Linked DNA regions of Homo sapiens: region 2 is linked to region 1. Evidence: fine-mapped expression QTL. A gene starts in region 1. The other region holds a variant in brackets. All regions are shown on one strand. Distances are between the middles of the regions. Region 1 holds the start of MAPK8IP2 (mitogen-activated protein kinase 8 interacting protein 2). Region 2 has its middle 16 kb from the start of ACR.

What was found. PIP is the estimated chance that this variant, and not a neighbour inherited with it, causes the effect.
Region 2: its variant is fine-mapped to the expression of MAPK8IP2 in tibial nerve (GTEx, PIP 0.95).

Annotation. Positions count from the first base shown.
Region 1 is chr22:50,599,145-50,602,044 of GRCh38, forward strand. MAPK8IP2 (mitogen-activated protein kinase 8 interacting protein 2) reads left to right here and starts at 1,649. Exons shown (of 12, transcript NM_012324.6): 1 at 1,649-1,739; 2 at 2,645-2,750. The coding sequence starts at 1,675. RefSeq lists a silencer at 1,059-1,238 and an enhancer at 2,028-2,528.
Region 2 is chr22:50,752,636-50,755,535 of GRCh38, forward strand. It overlaps the pseudogene SNRPA1P2. Among named protein-coding and RNA genes, the nearest start is that of ACR, 16 kb to the left of the region's middle. The variant G/A (reference allele first, on the strand shown) is at 1,523.

The sequences.
Region 1 (2,900 bases):
GATTGCCTGTAATCCCAGCTACTCGGGAGGCTGAGGCACGAGAATCGGTTGAACCCGGGAGGTGGAGGTTACAGTGAGCTGAGATCGTGCCACTACACTCCAGCCTGGGCAACAGAGCAAGTTCTGTCTCAAAAAAAAAAAAAAAAAAAAAAAAAAAAAAAAAAAAAAGAATTTTCCGCAGAACTAAGACATAAAGAAATCTTAGGGCACATAACTTTCATCAAGGGGGAAAAGGGATTGCGCTTTTGTTGAAATGCCAGCCTCCTTCTTTAGCCAATATTTAGCCAGGTGCTGTGGTTCACACCTGTAATCCCAGCACTTTGGGAGGCTGAGGCCAGAGGATAGCTGAGCCCAGGAGTTTGAGACCAACCTGGGCAATACAGAGAGAGCCGGTCTCTCTCTCTCTCTTTTTTTTTTTTTGAGACGGAGTCTTGCTCTTGCCAGGCTGGAGTGCAGTGGCGCAATCTCGTCTCACTGCAACCTCCGCTTCCCGGGTTCAAATGATTCTCCTGGCTCAGCCTCCCAAGTCGCCGGGACTACAGGCGCCCGCCACCACGCCCGGCTAATTTTTTTGTATTTTTAGTAAAGACGGGGTTTCACCATGTTGGCCAGGATGGTCTCTGGTCTCGATCTCTTGACGTCGTGATCCACCCGCCTTGGCCTCTCAAAGTGGTGGGATTGCAGGCGTGAGCCACCGCGCCCAGCCACCGGTCTCTATTTTAGAAAGAAAAAAAGTGTCCTGCAGTCTCTCCCTAGTTCTGCGCCCTCAACCCTGATCTCCCGCCTCCTCCCACAGCCACCGTCTCGAGCTCAGCTTCAACCATGGCCCTCCCCACAGGGCTCCATCCCAAGCCAGAGCGGGTCAGTTCCCTACACAGGGCCCAGCAACACGGTGCCCAAGAAAAAGTGTTTCCAGTGGGACGCATGTCGCCTCCGTGGGTGCTAACTTCTCCCAGTGCCCGTCGGTACGTCCGTCCGGCTGTGCAGTCTCTACTGAGTGCTCAAAGTCCACTTTTAGCCCCAGCCAGCATCCTCTGAGTACCTTGTGCTCGATTCTGAATCCAGCCCTGCTCGGCGACCCTCGTGCAGACGTCCCCGTGCAGCCCCGGTCAGCACCCCGTGGGGACAGCTCCGATCAGCACCCGACGGCGGACAGCTCCTCCCGCGCCTCCCGCCTCGCCCGCCACCCCGCTCCGGGCCGCACCCGGGTTAGGGTTCCTGGGGGGATCCTGGGCGCGGCGGCGCAGCTCCCGGGGCCGCCCCGGCCTCTCGCCCAGAGGAAACAGCCCACGGCGAACCCGAGGCCCGCGGACCCCGGCGCTGCCTCCTCGGCCTCCCGCCCCGCGCGGGTCCTCCAGGGCGGGGCCCGACGCCCACCCGCCCGCCCCTTCCCTCCCGCCCCTCCCCGGGAAAAATCCTCATCGCACGCCCGGCCCTTCCCCAACCAGCGCCCGGCAGTGAAGCCGCCGCCTCTCCTCCAACCAGCGTCCCCGGCCGCGTCCCTCCCCCGCCTCCCCCGCCGCCCTCCCCGCGCCGCCGCGGAGTCCGGGCGAGGTGCGCGGGGCGGACGCCGCAGGGCGTGTCACGAGGTGAGCGGGGCGGGCCGAGCGCCGGCGCGGGGCGCGGCGAGGCTCCCGCACCCCCCGCCGCAGTCGCGGGCCTCTCCCGGAGAAGATGGCGGATCGCGCGGAGATGTTTTCTCTCTCCACCTTCCACTCGCTGTCGCCGCCGGGCTGCAGGTACCCCCCTCGGCGCCCGGGCCGGGCGGACCCTCCGCTCCCTGCGCACCCCCCCGACCCCGACCCGGCCCGGACCCCCGTCCCCGCCGCCCCAGCCCCGCCGCCGGCGCGGACCCGGCCCCGGCCCCCTGCGGTCCCTGAGCCTCGGCTCGGGCGCCCCACCCCCACCCCGCTCCCACTCCCTCCATCTTCACCGCGCGTCCCCAGCCTCAGTGACCCCCGGGCCCCGCCGGGATTCTGAGCCGCGCCCGGCCTGGACGGCTGACCTGTCAAGGGTGGAGGCCCTGGGCCGACCCTCTGCGGGGGAGGATGCGGGCGGGATGCGGGCACACCCTCCCGGCGCGGCGTGTCCCGGTGGCCTTGGCCTCTTTCAGTGGACGCCAGACCTGGCCGATAGGGCCCGGCCGGGAGAGAGTGGAAATCAAGCCCGGAGCCCTGCGGGAAGGGACTGGGGTTGGGAGGACGCTGGGCCTCTGGGTTTAGGCCTCACTCCGCCGGAGAGGGGGAGACAAACAGGCCAGACTCTCTTCCCAGAGCAGGAGCGACCCCTCCCCATCTGCCGCTGCCGCGTTGCAGCTCCCCCTCCCCTGCTCTGCAAGACCCTGACCCCAGGGGCCTGGAGCTGCGAGTGGAGGGAGGAGAGGCTGCTGGCTCTCCAGGGAGGCGGGGTGGGAGGGGTGGGGGCAGGGTTGGCTCCTCCGGGCAGGCCTGGCTCAGATGGGGGAGGGGATCCACAGGCGAGCAGAGCTTGGGGGTCAAGATGATGGCAGGATGTGTTCCGAGAGCTGGGGGCTGTGGAAACCACTGGGTGTAGGAGCTGACGCCTCCCTCTGCCCCTCCTCAGGGCCAGTTGCCAGGCAGGGAGTCCAGGGTTGGTGGCTCTCTGACCCTGGTCTCCTTTCCAGGCCTCCCCAGGACATAAGCCTGGAAGAATTTGACGACGAAGATCTGTCTGAGATCACTGATGACTGTGGCCTGGGCCTCAGCTACGACTCAGACCACTGTGAGAAGGTGGGAGAAGAGTTGGGGACACAGATCCAGCTCAAGGGAGGGCCTCATTAGGTTCTTCTTAGCGTTCACTTGGGGTTTTAGGGTGGGTGTGAGCTCAGCCTTGAACCGGGGACTCCTCTGATGGCTCCTCCCCACTTAACCCTTGAGGTT
Region 2 (2,900 bases), 150 kb after region 1:
TCAGGATGATGCTGGCCTCATAAAATGAGTTAGGGAGGATTCTCTCTTTTTCTATTGATTGGAATAGTTTCAGAAGGAAGGGTACCAGCTCCTCCTTGTACCTCTGGCAGAATTCGGCTGTGAATCCATCTGGTCCTGGACTTTTTTTGGTTGGTAAGCTATTGATTATTGCCACAATTTCAGAGCCTGTTATTGGTCTATTCAGAGATTCAACTTCTTCCTGGTTTAGTCTTGGGAGGGTGTATGTGTAGAGGAATTTATCCATTTCTTCTAGATTTTCTAGTTTATTTGCATAGAGGTGTTTGTAGTATTCTCTGATGGTAGTTTGAATTTCTGTGGGATCGGTGGTGATATCCCCTTTATCATTTTTTATTGGGTCTGATTCTTCTCTCTTTTCTTCTTTATTAGTCTTGCTAGCGGTCTATCAATTTTGTTGATCTTTTCAAAAAACCAGCTCCTGGATTCATTAATTTTTTGAAGGGTTTTTTGTGTCTCTATTTCCTTCAGTTCTGCTCTGATTTTAGTTATTTCTTGCCTTCTGCTAGCTTTTGAATGTGTTTGCTCTTGCTTTTCTAGTTCTTTTAATTGTGATGTTAGGGTGTCAATTTTGGATCTTTCCTGCTTTCTCTTGTGGGCATTTAGTGCTATAAATTTCCCTCCACACTGCTTTGAATGTGTCCCAGAGATTCTGGTATGTTGTGTCTTTGTTCTCGTTGGTTTCAAAGAACATCTTTATTTCTGCCTTCATTTCGTTATGTACCCAGTAGTCATTCAGGAGCAGGTTGTTCAGTTTCCATGTAGTTGAGCGATTTTGAGTGGGTTTCTTAGTCCTGAGTTCTAGTTTGATTGCACTGTGGTCTGAGAGACAGTTTGTTATAATTTCTGTTCTTTTACATTTGCTGAGGAGTGCTTTACTTCCAACTATGTGGTCAATTTTGGAATAGGTGTGGTGTGGTGCTGAAAAAAATGTATATTCTATTGATTTGAGGTGGAGAGTTCTGTAGATGTCTATTAGGTCTGCTTGGTGCAGAGCTGAGTTCAATTCCTGGGTATCCTTGTTAATTTTCTCTCTTATTGATCTGTCTAATGTTGACAGTGGGGTGTTAAAGTCTCCCATGATTATTGTGTGGGAGTCTAAGTCTCTTTGTAGTCACTAAGGACTTGCTTTATGAATCTGGGTGCTCCTGTATTGGGTGCATATATATTTAGGATAGTTAGCTCTTCTTGTTAAATTGATCCCTTTACCATTATGTAATGGGCCTTCTTTGCCTCTTTTGATCTTTGTTGGTTTAAAGTCTGTTTTATCAGGGACTAGGATTGCAACCCCTGCCTTTTTTTATTTTCCATTTGCTTGGTAGATCTTCCTCCATCCCTTTATTTTGAGCCTATGTGTGTCTCTGCACATGAGATGGGTTTCCTGAATACAGCACACTGATGGGCCTTGACTCTTTATCCAATTTGCCAGTCTGTGTCTTTTAATTGGAGCATTTAGCCCATTTACACTTAAAGTTAATATTGTTAT[G/A]TGTGTATTTGGTCCTGTCATTATGATGTTAGCTGGTTATTTTGCTTGTTAGTTGCTGCAGTTTCTTCCTAGCCTTGATGGTCTTTACATTTTGGCATGTTTTTGCAGTGGCTGGTACTGGTTTTTCCTTTCCATGTTTAGTGCTTCCTTCAGGATCTCTTTTAGCACAGGCCTGGTGGTGACAAAATCTCTCAGCATTGGCTTGTCTGTAAAGTATTTTATTTCTCCTTCACTTATGAAGCTTAGTTTGGCTGGATATGAAATTCTGGGTTGAAAATTCTTTTCTTTTTCTTTTTTTGGTAGCACAGTGAGTGGAGTTTATTTTTATAATTTGTAGAAAATTGACATTTAGATTTCAAAACTTATATTACAAAATTATCAGCAGCAGTCTTAAGCATTTCAACCATGCTGATAGATTCCACTTTGCTAACACAAACAAGGCTATTATACTATGTTTGAAAAGCAAGACTTGTTCCAAGACGGCCTATTATTATACATCTGCCTCACTGCTCAGGACCCGTTTGTGACTGTGTCTTCTTCCATCTCTTCTTCACCATCATCAGTGGGCCCCAATCTGCGTTCTCTGCCAGGGATCTGACCAGACTGCAGCAACCCCTTCAGCCTCTCCACTTCAGCCAGAGTTGAAGCATTTGCTATAGCATTCTTGATTGCTTCTACATCCCCTGGAGATGGCCCACCTTTCTTTTTGTCAGTTGGCAAACCAGCACCTGGATTAAAAGTTTTGCTTCTCCTGGCAATATCCTTTGCAAGCTGTGCACCCCGTTTGCCCTTGAACATTTTCTCTGCTTCCTGACGCTCTTTAGTTTCACTTTCTGGAAATCCAGTACTCTGATTTGCGGAACTTTATAAATCACATACAATCTGTAATGCTTCTTATTGGTTACTGGATTTCTTAGGATACTTAGGTAAGTCAGCGATTTGAGAGATGCCAGAGGGTCCAGATCACCCAGTTCCACGAGCCTATTATTGGTGAGAATGAGTTCTGTCAGACAGGGCAGAGCCTGATCAAGTCCCTCACCTATACGGCATATTCTGTTTTGTTCACTAACAACGTTTTCAGTCTTCTCAACAAAGGAAAACCATCCAGTTTCCTGATCTCATTGTCAGAAAAATCAATAGCATCAAACTGGTCTAACGTAGCACCTAGATTTTCAATGACGGGAATTTTATACCCCCGGAGGTCCAGCTCCCGGTCGCGCACCGCGCTGGTGTACTGCGCCGCCTGCTCGATCAGCTCCGCCGTCAGCTTGACCATCCTGCGGCCTCCCGTTCCCCCGCGCTGTGGAAAGCTGAAAATTCTTTTAAGAATGTTGAATATTGGCCCCCACTCTCTTCTGGCTTGTAGAGTTTCTGACGA